Linked DNA regions of Homo sapiens: all the other regions are linked to region 2. The links come from fine-mapping of genetic effects on gene expression. A gene starts in region 2. Each other region holds a variant in brackets. All regions are shown on one strand. Distances are from middle to middle.

Evidence for each region. PIP is the estimated chance that this variant, and not a neighbour inherited with it, causes the effect.
Region 1: its variant is the best candidate, but not a certain one, in a credible set for the expression of EIF5-DT in anterior cingulate cortex (GTEx, PIP 0.68).
Region 3: its variant is the best candidate, but not a certain one, in a credible set for the expression of EIF5-DT in putamen (GTEx, PIP 0.51).

Annotation. Positions count from the first base shown.
Region 1 is chr14:103,307,262-103,312,482 of GRCh38, reverse strand. The region is part of intron 1 of LOC105370686 (a long non-coding RNA gene); the gene reads left to right. Among named protein-coding and RNA genes, the nearest start is that of EIF5, 24 kb to the left of the region's middle. RefSeq lists an enhancer at 632-1,608. The variant G/T (reference allele first, on the strand shown) is at 2,002.
Region 2 is chr14:103,331,945-103,337,165 of GRCh38, reverse strand. EIF5-DT (EIF5 divergent transcript) reads left to right here and starts at 2,506. Exons shown (of 1, transcript NR_158216.2): 1 at 2,506-5,221. EIF5 (eukaryotic translation initiation factor 5) reads right to left here and starts at 2,929. Exons shown (of 12, transcript NM_001969.5): 1 at 2,906-2,929; 2 at 2,569-2,777; 3 at 1,234-1,513; 4 at 1,049-1,130; 5 at 317-489; 6 at 1-50. The coding sequence starts at 1,305. RefSeq lists silencers at 2,074-2,313, 2,424-2,473, 2,614-3,033 and an enhancer at 3,354-3,473.
Region 3 is chr14:103,301,035-103,306,255 of GRCh38, reverse strand. All of the region lies in intron 1 of LOC105370686 (a long non-coding RNA gene), which reads left to right. Among named protein-coding and RNA genes, the nearest start is that of EIF5, 31 kb to the left of the region's middle. RefSeq lists an enhancer at 3,910-4,410. The variant C/T (reference allele first, on the strand shown) is at 2,884.

The DNA of each region.
Region 1 (5,221 bases), 25 kb after region 2:
GTCAGGGGCTGCCAGCTGGGACGCCTGTGCCACCACTGGGTGAGGAATGGCGGCGGCATGAGCTGTGGTGTCGGTGGCTGGTCTGTTTGTTAACCTGGGCCCTCCTAGAAGGAGCTGGGGAGGGCTATGGATCTGTGCTGCAGGTCCGGCCCTGAGGAAAGGGCCCACAGGGCCATTGGCAAATCTCCTGTCCCCTGGGAATGGGCCTGCCTCGGTACCCTTGCCGTGCCAGACCACTGGCTGGGAGCAGCCTGGGGGAACATGGATTTCAGAGCCCAGCACCTGGGACCAGGGCCGATGACACTTCCTGGGGCTGTGGGGGGTGAGGGAGGTGCATTCTCACAGCCTCCACACTCCCCCAGCGTGAACAGCTGGACCTCTCCCTCACCTTGCCTCCGTGAGGATGCATGGAGGGTCAAGGGGATTGTGGCCCTGGCCTGTGCGTCTGTCCCCGCTTCCTCCCTACTTGCTGATGCTCCTGTCTTTTGCTCTGGGGGCCAAGCCACGTTTGACGGGCGTTGGGGTTAAAATGGAATGTGACTGTATTGCTGCTGCAGGTCCCTTTGGAGAGAGGATGGAAAGTCAGGTCACGAGGCGTAGGGAAGAACGTAGGTTAATTAAAGTTTAAAACGCCTCTTTCCGCAGAGGTTCCTTGAGTCAACCCTGAGCGAGAGAGGCGCTGGGAGGGTCCTGGCTGCCTGGGGGCTGTGGCCTTCGGATGGTGCCAGCAGCATTGTCCCCATGGAAGAGTGGCCTGAGTGTGCCTTCAAGCTTTAATGCTTTTAAGCAACATTGAAATTCATCCCTGTACATCCTCAACTGCCTGGGAAACGTCCTAATTCAAGCGGAGAATCTGGGTCAGCTGTTTATAGAATAGTATTTGCTGAATGAAACTGGTGGCCCAGACAGCGGGGGACTTCTTGGGGGGTGGACGCTGGAGGGGACCCGGCCGTGAGCTCACGCGTGTCACCTCTGCTTTGTGCTACACTGTCACTTCCATTCTCAGAGCGTGTTAATTGAGCATTGCAACCTCCGTGGACCATCCGGGGAAAAGGCAACACCACAGCGTGGCTCGTGGAAAGGCTTCTCTAGAGGACGAGGTGGCAATGGCAGGAGCTGCCTTACTTGTAGCACAGGGGACCTGGCCACCATGAGCAGCTCTGTGCCCTGCCCACACCCCCGTCCCCAACACACAGGCGCACATATGGATCCGTGTGCAGCGTGTTGGGTCGGGGAGCCCGTGCCTCTGGGCTGGGCTCTGAGACTCTGTGGGCTCTGGGACTGTGACTTCTTTGTCTTTTTAAGCTCTAGTGCTTGGCTCAGTGTCTGATGTTTTTGGGTAACATAACAAAGATTTGTAGAATAAGTGAGGGAGAGAACGATCTTTGTAAACTCTCCGAATCTGAAGACAGCGCTTAGTGGTGCCACGGTGTTGCAGGTTATTTTGTAGATGAGGCCAGAGGGGCCCTGGGAGGAGAAACCACTCCTGGGAACCAAGGCTGGAAACCGGATGCTCCTGGCACAGCCCACAAAACAGCCGGGGCCTCCTGTCTCGGGCAGAGGCTTCTCCCTCTCGGTGTTTCTTCCTGATTGGGGAATAGAGGCTGGCCCTGCATCTTTGCTTTCTGACTTTTCCCACTGACCCCCAAGCTGAGCCCTGGGAAGGTGGAGGCTGCATTCTGCCCTGAGGCCTTCCCCCAGAAAAGCTGTCCCCAGGCGGAGGCTGCGGCGAGGGGCTGCCGCATCTATTCCTGGGTCCCTGGTGAGAAGGGTTGGTTATTTGACTCCAACCTGTCTCTGTTATCATTGTCTCTAAGTACTTACTATTATGACTCCTGAGTGTGTGCATGTGTGTGTGTACTTGTGTGTGCGCACTGGGCAATAATGTAAACCTATTTCTTATAGTGGGGTCACAGTCAAAAGCTTGAGAAGCCTTCAGAGAGGCTCCATCCATATGTGGGTATGTATGGGGCAGGGGGAGTGTGGAGATAGATTTTCCCA[G/T]CGTTCTTAAGGTAGAGAATTTTCCAGCAGTTTTCAAGAGTGATCAGGAAAGGCTAGAAGAATGTTGGGAAGAATTGCTTGGGTCAGCCTCCCTTGGTTATTTATTTATTTATTTATCTATTTATCTATTTATTTATTTATTTGAGACAGGGTCTCACTCTGTCACCCAGGCTGGAGTGCAGTGGTGTGATCTCGGCTCACTGCAACCTTTATCTCCTGGGTTTAAGCGATTCTCGTGCCTCAGCCTCCCAAATAGCTGGGATTACAGGCGTGCAGCACCACACCAGGCTAATTTTTGTATTTTTAGTAGAGATGGGGTTTCACCATGTTGCCCAGGCTGGTCTCAAACTCCTGACCTCAAGTGACCCGCCCACCTTGGCCTCCCAAAGTGCTGGGATTACAGGCGTGAGCCACCACACCCAGCCTTCCTTGGTTATTTAAATGATGGGCAAGCAGGCCCCAGGATGAGCACACAGGGCTTTCGCTGCTAAAACCAGGACGAGCTGGTTGTGCTAGTGGGCCCCACTGGACCAGGAGACGTTTCAGCTTAGAAAGCAGCTGCACATCTTGGAGAGACTCTGGGCAGAGCTGTGAAGGAGACCGGCCTGGATGGGTTGCCTGACCCCCCGGCACCCTGGCTGGAGCTGGGTAAGGGCATGTAGGGGCCTGTCATCAAGCCTGGCCCTGGGGACCACTGTGGTGGCCTGGCAGAGAAGGCAGTGCCTTCCATGGCTTCCCCAGCCTTCCTATGGCATCCACTCTTGGCCTTCTTGGGCACCTGCCAGCCTTGGTTTCTCACAAACTTTTCTGCTGCCATTGCCTGGGGAAGGAGGTACCCAAAAACATGGCACTGATGGAGCTTTAACTTCAGGGATTCTGGCAGTTTTTGCTGGGATCCCCATTTGTCAGCTGCTGTGCTGGGGAGGGAACAGCCCCCCACCAGTAGTTGTCCTAAGATCAAGGCCTGTGCCTTGATGGACAGGAGCTGGGATTCCATCTACCCTCAGACTGACCTTCTCAAGGCCGGTTGACTGAGTGGTGTTGATAAGACCCGCCTTGGAGCCTCCCTGGGGGCCTGAGCTCCTCTCCCTCTGGACCACCTGCTGGGCTAGGACTGGGTCTCAGGCTCTGGGGCAGCCAGGATAGACCGGCCGGTGGGGCTTCTGCTATTCCCAGTGTGGAGGTGGACACGTTCCATGCCAGGGCCTGACTAGGGCATGTCATTTGCACTCCCAGTTGTGCAGAGTGACAGCTGCATTGCTGAAGCATTCTCCTGTTCTCGTTTCTGAAGAAAAGTATTATGGAGAGGTCCGACATTCACAGGAGCAGAGCAAACAGCAGCACTCACGGCAACCACTCGGCCTTGCCAGCCACCCTCGCTTTGCCCAGCATCTCAACAAAGCATCCTGGTCATTTATTTTCCTTCCCTCCTTCCTTCCTTCCTTCCTTCCTTCCTTCCTTCCTTCCTTCCTTCCTTCTTTCCTTCCTTCCTTCTTTCCTTCCTTCCTTCTTTCCTTCCTTCCCTTCCTCCCTCCCTTCCTCTTTCTCTCTTTTTTCTTTCTTCTTTCTTTTTTCTTTCTTTCTTCTTTCTTTCTTTCTCTTTTCTTTCTGTTCTTTCTCTCTCTCTTCTTTCTTTCTCTCTCTTTCTTCTTTCTTTCTTTCTCTCTCTCTCTCTCTCCTTCCTTCCTTCCTTCCCTCCTTCCCTCCCTCCTTCCCTCCCTCCCTTCCTCCCTCCCTTCCTCCCTTCCTCTTTCTTTCTCTCTCTCTTTTTCTTTCAAGAGAGGATCTTACTCTGTCACTGAGGCTGGAGCATGGTGGCATGATCATGGCTCATTGCAGCCTCTACCTCCCAGTCTTAAGTGATCCTTCCACCTCAGCCTCTTGTGTAGCTGCGACTACAGGCACTTGCCACTGTGCTTCGCTAATTTTTGTATTATTAGTAGAGACAAGGTTTTGCTATGTTGCCCAGGCTGGTTTCAAACTCCTGAGGTCAAACAATCCTCCCACCTCGGCCTTCCAAAGTCCTGAGATTACAGGCATGAGCCACCACGCCCAGCCCAAAGAAGGTCATTTTCCCTTTCTTTCTTTCTTTCTTTCTTTCTTTCTTTCTTTCTTTCTTTCTTTCTTTCTTTCTCTCTCTCTCTCTCTTTCTTTCTTTCTTTCTTTCCTTCTCTCTCTCTCTCCCTCCCTCCCTCCTTTCCTTCCTTCCTTCCTTCTTTCCTCTCTTTCTTTTTAAGAGACAGGGCCTCCCTATGTTGCCCAAGCTGGTCTCATACTCCTGGACTCCAGGGATCTTCCTGCCTCAGCCTCCCAAAGTGCTAGGATTACAGGCATGAGCCACCACGCCTGGCCAAGGTCATTTTCTTAAGTAACTAAAGGGCCCCTGTTACACCTTACAGCATCGACAGCAATTGCTTCCCCCTCAGCGTCACCACTGGCTCTGTGGGTCCAAAGGACCCTTTACATTTTCAACGTTTAAGTCATTTTAGAAATACAGGCAAACCTCATTTGATTGCATTTCACTTAATTGCATCTTGCAGATATTGTTTTAATGTTTAAACAAATTCAAGGTCTGTGAGCAAATCTATCATTTTTTCCCCAACAACATGTGCTCACTTCATGTCTGTCTTGTCACGTTTTGCTAATTCTTACAGTATTTCCAACTTTTTCATTAGAATTATATCTGTTACGATGATCTGTGATGTTACCATCATCACTGTTTTGGGGGACCACAAACCGTGTTCTTCTGAGATAGTGAACTTAATGGATAAACGTTGTGTGTTCTGAGTGCTCCTCAGACCGGCCGCTCCCCCATCTCTCTCCAACTCCTCAGGCCTCCTTAAGCCAAGATAGGCCAAAAGCTAGGTCTCTTGCGACAGACAGCCAAGTTGTGAACACAAAGGAATAGTTCTTGAAGGAAATTTAAATGTGCTACTCCGGTGAACACATGGATGATGAGAAAGTGAAACACCCTCACTGCTGCTATGGAGGGAGTTGGAGTCTGGATAGATCAAACCAAACACAACATTCCCTTAAGCCAAAGCCTCATCCAGAGCATGGCCCTCACTCTCTTCAATTCTGTGAAGGCTGAGAGAGGTGAGGGAGATGCAGAAGAAAAGTTGAAAGCCACCAGAGGTTGGTTCATAGAAAGAGGGCTTTCATAGCTAGAGAGGAGAAGTCAATGTCTGGCTTCAGAGCTTCAAAGCACAGGCTGACTCTC
Region 2 (5,221 bases):
CCACAGGCTTTACAAGAATTACCTATTGTTTGCTTCTTTGGATTGACATGCTGCCAAAAAAATAACAAATGTTATCCATAATATAACATGAAAATATCTAATCAGAGGACATCTAAACCACAGACAGCTTCACATGCAAAGAAAACTTTTTTCACACAGTGACCTACTTTAAAAAAAAGAATGGAAATATCTCGAAAACTGGAGTTTTGTGTTTGATTTAAAATTACATTTGCTCTGCCTTCTCAGGAAGGTGACTTAGCGGTATCACAGAAGCAGGTATATGGCTTTTTCTTTCGACAACCACAAAAGCACTTACCAAATCTGTTTCAGGATTCTCACATTCAGGACAGAGAACAAATTTTTTAATGAATCCATCCAACATGTCTTGCAGCTTATTCGCCTCATGAGATCCATTGACAATGTAACGGTCATTCTTAACATCAAACTGGGTCTGTGCTCCCAGCTCACAACCAAAATATTTGGTGGGATCTATTTGAATGAAAAAGGAGTTTGGATCGTTACAGTTAACTAGATCTCTGGCTACTCACTCACATTTGTACGAACACCACTTTTTTTTTTTTTTTGAGACAAGAGTCTCACTCTGTCACCCAGGCTGGAGTGCAACGGCGTGGTCTCAGCTCACTGCAACCTCCGTTTCCGGGGTTCAAGCGATTCTCCCCCTTCAGCCTCCCAAGTAGCTGGGACTACAAGCGCATGCCACCACGCCTGGCTAATTTTTGTATTAGTAGTAGACTCAGGATTTCACTATGTTGGCTAGGCTGGTCTAGAACTCCTGACCTCGCGATCCGCTTGCCTCAGCCTTCCAAAGTGCTGGGGGTTACAGGTGTGAGCCAACGCGCCCAGCCATCCACTCTTTAAATGCGTTCCCCTGGTAGTTTTGTAAACTCATGGCAACCAATAAACCACGGTTCCTCACTTAACTTGTAAGGTAATTAGCTAGCATACAATTAGAACAAGTTTTGCAGCTCAAAGACTTTGAAGACTCTATCCATAATATGCCCTGTGGACTTTTCCAAGCTTTACTTACACGTTGGAGGCCGATTAAGCGCCTTTGCAACGTCAACCATGTTGACTATAACTGTCTTGATTCCATTGCCTTTGCCCTCAACCTAAAGGAAATAAGAATTTTAGTTGTGCAGTTTCCCCTGACAAATGCAAACTTCAAAATTCTACAAAAAGAGCTATCAACTAAATTGAAGAGCAGTTTATTACCTTGGCAATCAGACGGGGCATCTTGTAGCGATAGAACTGGTCTGACACGCTGCGGTTGACATTGACAGACATTTTGGCTTATTAGTGGCTTTATCAATAAGATGAAGAGATCTTTGATTGCAACTTTTTGGTATCTTCTGTCTGGAGAAGAAGGGATGACATAAACGACTGCAAGAGTTCTCGGTCTCTGACATGAAAAAATTTTCGCCACTGAGGCTGTAAGCTTCTTGCTTGTATGCTATGTTTCCCCAATACAGGTACCAATGGCTGCGCAACAGCTCTGAAAGAAAAAGGGAAAGAACACACAAAAATCCCCCCAGGTTTAACATCATCGCTGGATGGAAACGCCTCCTTTTTACATCCTAGTTATGCTTCTGCTTAACTCCACCTTAAAAAGCATCTGAGATCACATGCAAACAGCCATTCTCATGTAACACAGTACAATCTGCGGGAACATAAAAAGGCCTCCATTTCGACTAAGCTGTGACTGGTAGGGAAATGCCTGACAAGAAAACACAAGCTGTGCTGCCTCAGCCGCCGTGAGATTCCATCAGACCGAGGGCAATCAGCAGGTTTGCCTCTGCGGCCATCCTGGAAGTGCTGAAGAACGAACCCGAGCCCTCTCCGCCGCCCACCCCGCCTGGATAAGCAAACTTCTCAGGCACACCCCCGTTCGTCTTCATTTTTAAGGGCAACCTAGGGAACTGTTCTCTACAACTAATCGTTGCTTCGGCAACCATGGCTTACTTCAAAGCAGCACTTCCTTAAACGCAGCGCTCGCCCACAATTTGCCATTAAGCAAGAGAGCGCGAGCGAACGCCAGGCTCGCCCCGGCCTCCCTTTTCCTCGCTATTCAAATACTCGGTTAACCTTCGCCCTGGTCCCCATGGCTACCGCGCTCCGAGGCGTTTCCGCGGGGGCTGGCGAACCGGGCAGCTCCGCGAAGGAGGGGGGCGCGCGACCGGGGCGTCTGGCCCCATCCCCAGCGCGTCCCCCGAGAGCCGGCGGCCCCGGAGGGTGCACAGCCGGGAAGCGACACACGGCCGAGGGGTGCCGGGATCGGGCCGCCCCCGCCCCAGAGCGCGCGATGACTCACAAATGCAGCAGCTGAAGCCTGAGTCAGCCCGAGCGGCGGGCACGCGCGACGCGCTCCCGCCATGCCGGGGAGGGGGCGAGGCCGGGCCGGGGAGCGCGCGGGGAGGGGGCGGCCGGCGCCCGGGCCCGCGCCCGCCCGCCGTCCGCCCAAACTGCGCCACACGCCGCGGCGGGGTCACGCGGCGGCCGCCGCCATCTTGTGCGGCCGCCATCTCCTGGCCCGCCGCGCCCGCGACTCACCGTTTTCGTCAAATAAAGACATAAACCCAACGCTGCTCGCCCGGGACTGGGATGAAGTGAGGCGCGATATAAACCCGAGTCCGAGTCCGAGGAGGCGGAGGCGAAGCGCAGCGAGGAGCGGCCGGGCCAGGTGCCGCCGCCGAGCAGCGGGGAGGGGCTGTCCCAGCGACGTCCGCGGTCCACACCCGTCAGCGCCGGAGCTGGGCGACCTGGCGCGGAGAGACGGCGCCGTGAGCCGTGGGCGGTCGGGGAGTGCACCTTCCCCGCCAGCCAGCGGCCCGAGGGGTCGAGGGGGCGGGAAGCACCGGGCAGGGGGCCGCCCCTTCACCGGACTCACCTCTGGAATGTTCTCGCTCTGACTGAACAACGCCGCCGCCGCGCTCAAGCTACCCTCGGCCCCAGCGTCCGCCCCCCGCGTCAGGCCTCACTGCCCATTGGCTGGAGGCCTGCCACAGCTCGCTCGTCATTGGTTCGCTTGCGACGTCAATCGCATCTTTCCGCGCCCCTTCTGCTTCCTGAGGCTCAACTCGCGGCCTCGGCCCGCCTCCAGCCCCGGTCTCGCTTCCTTCCTCTCCCCTCCCCCCGCCTTTCCCAGAGGTCTTCGCGGCGCAGCCCTTGGGTCTCGCGAGACCCGGAGTGGCCCTGGTGGCGGGGCCGGGGTACCGGGGGCCGTTCTTTGTCGGTTTGGGCCTTGAGGGGGAGATGGTGGTTGGTCCCCTCCCTCGCCGGGTCTGGGACAGGCCGCGGCGTCATGGCGACTCCCGGGACGCAGGAGCCATCGTCCTCGAAACTGCTTTCGAGGCCGTGTTTTTGCGGCTGCCACCTTCGGGGAGAGGAACCCGACCGCGTTCTCCCCGCAGCGGGCGCTCATCTCCCTTTCCCGTTCTCCCGGGACGCCCGACTCCGGGCCTCGAGGAATGAGTTGTTTTTCCACCTTAAGCCCCAGGCCTGGGTCTTTCATCCCAGGGACGTCTTCTGTTTCGGACTCGGGGTGGATTGGCCGCTGGCGGAACGAGTCCGTGACTCGCCAGTGACCGCCCAGGGCGGTCGCGAGGCCGCGCCGCCTCGGTGTCGGCCCGCAACCCAGCCTGCGCGCTTAGCTCAGCGCGTCGCCTCCCGTTTTCGGAAGAGGAGGCCCTTAATTGGTTTGGAATCCTGGGGCCTCCTGAAGGCGCTTCGTGGTGGGTTCCCACCTTCTGGTGAAGGCCTCCCTGCTCTCCCAGGGTTGAAAAGCGCTATCCTTCGTGCTTCTCTTGTCACCTTTCTCCTAGTGGGCATCACGTCGAGTCCACCCCCTCTAGTTTATGACTTGTGAATTCTTTGATAAGCAAATCGTAGCCCAGAGCAGGCATTTATAATGAGATTCCAATGTATTCCGTTGAAAATTACTATTATTTAGGCCGGTCGCGGTGGCTCACGTCTGTAATCCCAGCACTTTGGGAGGCTGAGGTGGGCGGATCACCTGAGGTCGGGAATTTGAGACCAGCCTGGCCAATATGGTGGAACCCTGTCTCTACTAAAAATACAAAAAATTAGCTGGGCGTGGTGGCTCGCTTGTAATCCCAGCTACTCGGGAGGCTGAGGCAGGAGAATCCTTGAACCCGGGAGGCACAGGTTACAGTGAGCCGAGATCACACCACTGCACTCCAGCCTGGACAACAGAGCGAGACTGTCTCCAAAAAAAAAAAAAAAGAAAATTTTTATTATTTAGAGAGAGGCTCTCATATTTTAGTTCTGTTGAAACTCTCCCATTCTTTCTGAAACTTGGATTTTTTTTGTGAAAACTTGAGTCTTAAAAACACATCCATAGTTCACCCTGAAGTTTGAAGACCTCACTTGACTGATGGAGCGAGAGCCCCGCTAACCTGCACTCTGGTCTCTAAGGTGCAGTCATCGAGAAGTCCTGAGCGGCCGTGCAGGTTTCCCGATCTGGAAAAGAGAAATGTTGCTGAGGACAGGATGAGGTAGATAAGGGGCTGCCCTTTGTTTTGGACCAGTTGCATTTGCACTGAGGTTAGAATTGGCAGCTATGTTGATTTTTATATCAAAATCCAAGATCGTGCTTCCATAACTAAAAGCTTTATAAACAACTTAAAAATTGGCAGTGTTGGTAGGAAGAAATAAAGGCACAATCCAGAATTGAGAGGTGATTTGTGTCCTTTAGGGCAGGGACTTTTATAATCCCGCAGTGTGTACCTTGGTGTATAGTTGTTAAGCCAAGTGCACAGTGCCTTGTGAGTACCAGGGTTCCCATCAGACAAACTAGAAAAGGGGATCCCAGACATGCTGCTGCTGTTTCACTGTGGAGCATGACTTAGCAGTATTGAAACAGATCTGACTTTTTGCTTGGCAGCACAAAAATGATGTTATTTTAGAAACTCTGTTGGAAAGTATAGGCATGAAACTAGTCTGAGGTGAGAGGCCTGCCTTTTCAGAAAAGTTTTAATGAAACACGAAGTAATTAGCTTTTTTGTATGTTTAGTGGCACAATTTTTAATTTCGTTGAAGTTTGTAATAATTTTAACTGCTTTTTAATATGTGTACCACTCATTTGTATGCAACCATGGACAACTTAAAAAAATACTTTTGTGTTCTTTTTCTCCCTTTTATTTTTAGTTAATACATAATAACACATTTGTGGGATACAAAGTGA
Region 3 (5,221 bases), 31 kb after region 2:
CATAAGGCAATAGATAGTGATTCCTCTGGTGGATCTGGGCAAAGTCAACTGAAAAACTTCTGGAAAGGATTCACCATTCTAGATGCCATGAAGAAGATTTGTGATTCATGGGAAGAAGTCAAAATATCAACAAACATTGACAAGAGTTTGATTGGGTTTTTTGTTTGTTTGTTTGTTTGTTTTGTTTGAGACAGGGTTTCATTCCCATTGCCTATGCTGGAGTGCAACAGCGCAATCTCAGTTCACTGCAACCTCCTCCTCCCTGGCTCAAATGATTCTCCAAGCTCAGCATCCCGAGTAGCTACAGGTGCCTATCATCACACCTGGCTAATTTTTGTATTTCTGTATTTTTTGGCTGGGCTGGTCTCGAACCCCTGAGCTCAAGTGATCCACCTACCTCGGCCTCCTGTAATGCTGGGATTATAGGCATGAGCCACTGCGCCCAGCCAACATTGACAAAAGTTTGGAAGAAGTTGATTCCAACCTCATGGATGACTTTGAGGGGTTTGAGACTTCAGTGGAGGAAAGAGCTGTAGATGTGGTGGAAATAGCAAGAGAACTGGAATTAGAAATGACGCCTGAGGATGTGACTGAATTGCTATAATCTCATGAGAAAACTTTGAACAGATGAGGAGTTGCTTCTTATGAATGAGCGAAGAGAGTGGTTTCTTTAGATGGAAACTACTCCTAGTGATGATGCTGTGAACATTGTTGAAATGACTGCACAGGATTTAGGATATTACATAAATTCAGTTGATAAAGCAGTGGCAGGGTATGAGAGAATGGACTCCAATTTTCAAAGAAGTTCTACGGTGGATAAAATGCTATCGAACAGCATTGTATGCTGCAGAGAAATTTTTTTATGAAAGGAAGAGTCACTTTATGCAGCCAACTTCGTTGCTGTCTTATTTTAAGAAATTGCCATGGCCACCCCAACCTTCAGCAGCCACCACCCTGATCAGTCAGCAGCCATCAACATTGAGCCAAGACCCCCACCGGCAAGATGATTACCACTCACTGAATGTTCATGTGATTGTCTGCATGTTTTTTAGCAATTATATATATATATATAAAGATGTGATCTCTCTGTGTTGCCAGGCTGGTCTCAAACTCCTGGCCTCAAATGATCCTCCTGCCTCAGCCTCTCAAAATGCTGGGATTATAGGTGTGAGCCACTGCACCCAGCCAGAAATAAAAATATTTAAATTAAGGTATGTACTTTGTTTTTTTAGACACAATGCTATTGCACACTTAATAGACTATAAATAGACTATACTATAACGTAAGCATAACTTCTATATGCACTGGGAAACTGTGACTCACTTTCTTGTAGTATTAGCTTTATTGAGTGGTCTGGAACAGAACCTGCAGTATCTCTGAGGCGTCCCTGTTGGTCATTTGCAGAAGTAAGAATAAAGGGATGGTGAAATACAACTTCATTAGACATTTTAGAATGAAGACATAGCAAACTGAACTTTTTATTCCATGTTTGTGATTTTGAAGGTATATTGGTAGCATCCTTTGAATGCAACTGGCTACTTATCACCTGCCTTGCATGAGCCTGGAACTCATCCACCTTAAAAGTGCTAATTCCAGGTTTCAACTGCACTTCTAGGGGTGTCTAAGCTAACATTACTTTTCCTTCTTCTTGCACTGATGTTGTCAAAATGTGATATTTGGATGAACTTTTTGAAATCGTTGACACTTACAATTTTGTTGGAGACAGTGTGGCCATTTTCTTTGTTCCATGATTGCAAAACATTTTCATTTTTTGATCTATAAACACCCATTAGAATGATCAATTAATTTAAAATTTTGCATTATCTATTTCCTCTCAGTATCTTTGTATAAACACCTGCTTTTGGCATTTGTCCACTTATGAAATGTATCCCATTTTGTTCACAAACATCAAAAAATGTGAAAGTATACCATCATACATCCTTTTAGAAAAAATGCAGTGGTCCAAGTTCTTATTACAAAATATTGAGTGAAGTCTTGCCTGTTAATTGAATGCAAATTTTTTGTGTCATTAGAAATATGGATTTGAGAAAATTTGTCTGGGATATGGTCATCTGAATGCTCACTGAAATTTATCCCATTTGATTGATTTCACCATCATCATTAGCCTCTGGCTAATGGGACAGAGTGGCTGTCTGTCCCTTCTACCATATATATATATATTTTTTTCTTTTAAAGAGACAGGGTCTTGCTCTGTCACCCAGGCTGGAGTGCAGTGGTGTGATCATAGCTCACTGTAGCCTCTAGCTCCCAGGCTCAGGCAATCCTCCCACCTCAGCCTCTGGAGTATCTGGGACTACAGGCATGCACCACCACACCTGGACAATTTTTCTTTTCCTTCCTTCCTTTCTTCCTTCCTTTCTTTCTTTTTTTTTTTTTTTTGAGGTGGGGTTTTGTCATGTTGCCCAGGCTGGTCTCGAACTCCTAGGCTCAAGCAACCCACCCACCCCAGCCTCCCAAAGTGCTGGATTACAGGCCTGAGCCATGGAGCTTGGCCTTCCCCTAGCTGCTTCTTCTTCTTCTTCTTCTTTTCTTTCTTTTTTTTTGAGATGGAGGCTTGCTGTGTCTCCTAGGCTGGAGTGCAGTGGTGTGATTTCAGCTCACCACAACCTCTGCCTCCCAGGTTCAAGCAATCCTCCCACCTCAGCCTCCCAAGTAGCTGGGATTACAGGCATTCACCATCACGCCTGGCTCATTTTTGTATTTTAAGTAGAGATGGGTTTGGCCATGTTGGCCAGGCTGGTCTCAAACTCCTGGCCTCAAGTGATCCGCCCACCTCAGCCTCCCAAAGTGCTGGAATTACAGGCATGAGCCACTGTGTTGGGCCTTCCCCCGCTTCTAATTGCCTATAATTATGAATGTCTC[C/T]CTCAGTCAACTTTCTTCTCCTTGCTGTTATGGGTGAAAAATGAAAAATTCAGAATGCTTGATTGTATTGTTCAATAAGAGTGAAACAAAGGAAAGCCTGTCATCTCCAGAATTATCTTCTACCTTCTTGAAAGTTGATGCAATACTGTTAGCAATGTAGTGAGAAAACGGAAGGATACTGTGGCAGAGATGGTTTATTTCATTCTGCTTTTTAGGCAAGTGCATCAGCTTTTCATTTTTTTGTTATTTTAGTCTCTTTTAGCATAACTGGAAATACTTAAATGAGTGATGATGAAATAATTCTCAGGATGATGAAATAGAAAAATATTTCAAGATACAGGAAAAATAAGATTCCTGATTCCAAAATATATCTTAGATTTACAAAAGGCTTGAACCAATCCCTGTAGGAATTGCAAGACAGAATGGGTTTTGTTCTGTAGAAGGTCTCTAAGACAGAATAAAATTCACAAACTATTAATCCTTATACAGTGCTAGAACTACTCAAAAAGTAAACTAAAAAAATAAAAATAGGCCAGGAGTGGTGGCTCACGCCTATAATCCCAGCACTTTGGGAGGCTGAGGCGGGCAGATCACTTGAGGTCAGGAGTTCAAGACCAGCCTGACCAATAGGGTGAAACTCCACTTCTACTAAAAATACAAAAAAATTAGCTGAGTGTGGTGTTGCATGCCTGTAATCCCAGCTACTCAGGAGGCTGAGGCAGGAGAATCACTTGAACCTGGGAGGCAGAGGTTGCAGTGAGCCAAGATTGTGCCACTGCGCTCCAGCCAGGGCAACAAGAGTGAAACTCTGTCTCCAAAAAAAAAAAAAAAAAAAAAAAAAAGAACTCACTGGACCCTGCTGGTAAATTGAAGATTAATATCATTGAATATCCAACTGCCACATTAAATGTACCAAGTACCAAATTAAATTGCTCTGTTCAAAAAAACGTCTTTTTATAGTTGAGTTACTTAAATCAGGATCTAAATAAGATCTGCTCACGGTATGCACTGCCGTCTTGAGGTCCTTTGAAAGTGTCTTTTAATTTAGAACTGTCACCCCTCCTTAGTTTAATGCCATTGACTCATTAAAGAAACTGGGTCAGTTGTCCCGTACATGTCCCACATTTTGGATTTGACTGATTCCCTTCTCACAAGGTCATGGACCTGCCCCATATTTCCTGGAGTCTGCATTGGATCGAGGCTCAGTTTTGTCTTTGGTGGTGGTGGCAGGGGCTCCTCACCCCTGCCTGGCTGCACTGGTCTGCATAGAGGTCTTCTCTCCCTCCTGTGCCCTCACTCTGCCTGATCTGCCAAGGGGCCGGGAGTGGTTGGCTAGGGCCCGGCTGCTCCCACCTCCTTTCTGTGTTGGGGAGTAGGTGCTGGCTTAGAGCCCAGAGCTCTGGGTTTGGGCCTGGCCTTGCTACCCACCAGTTTGGGTTGGGCTTTAGTGTCCTTACCTGTATCCTGGGAATTATGTTACTTGTCCTGTTTACCACTCAGAGTTCTTGTAGGGATAAAAAAAAAAAAAAAAAAAAAGGACTTAAAAGGCTTTGGAAGCCATCAAGAGCTAATTAGGGTGCTGATGATTCTCCCCCTTAGCTCTGCAATGCAGGACTCCCTCATCCTGCCCCGCCCGGACAGCTCACCTCCTGCGTCCTGCCTCCTGCCCCCTCACCCCGCCCTGAGCACCCGGCTGTGTCCAGGGCTGATCTTTGCTGTGCACCCCACGTGCTGCTGGGGGTTCTGTAGTAGGCTTCAGGCCCTGGATGAGGCCAGGCTGAGAACCGCTGGTTGACACAGATACAGACCACTGGGTGGGCATCAGGGTGCTTGCTGCTGGGATACAGGAATATTTTGGGGCAAAACTCTAGGAAGCCTGTTTATAAAAGGCTGCTCCATTTTGGCCTGCAGAGAAATGAACTTTTGGCATATGAGTTTGGAATCTGGAGGAAGAGAAGCTTAACTGACTTCTGAAGCAATTTTTGGAGCTTTGTATTGGAATATGAAATACATACAGAGAACCGCAGGTACCTAAGTGTGGCCCCATGACCACTCATACACCGACCACTTTGGAGGAACTGGCACCCACATCGGGAAACAGAACATCACACCCCCTCTCAGAAGCCCCCTTTACGCCCTGTGCTCGGTGCCCTGCTGGTGATCACTATCCTGATGTTCCCGAAGCATTTTAAAGGCTGGTTGTGATGAACTATAAAGATGGTTGGACTGTGCTCAAAGCAGATCCAGCCAGTCCCTCCCTGTCATCAAGTCCCATGAATGTGCCCTTCCCGCCAGACTTCTCAGCACTGCAGTTCCCCAGGGGGCTCACCTTTCTCAA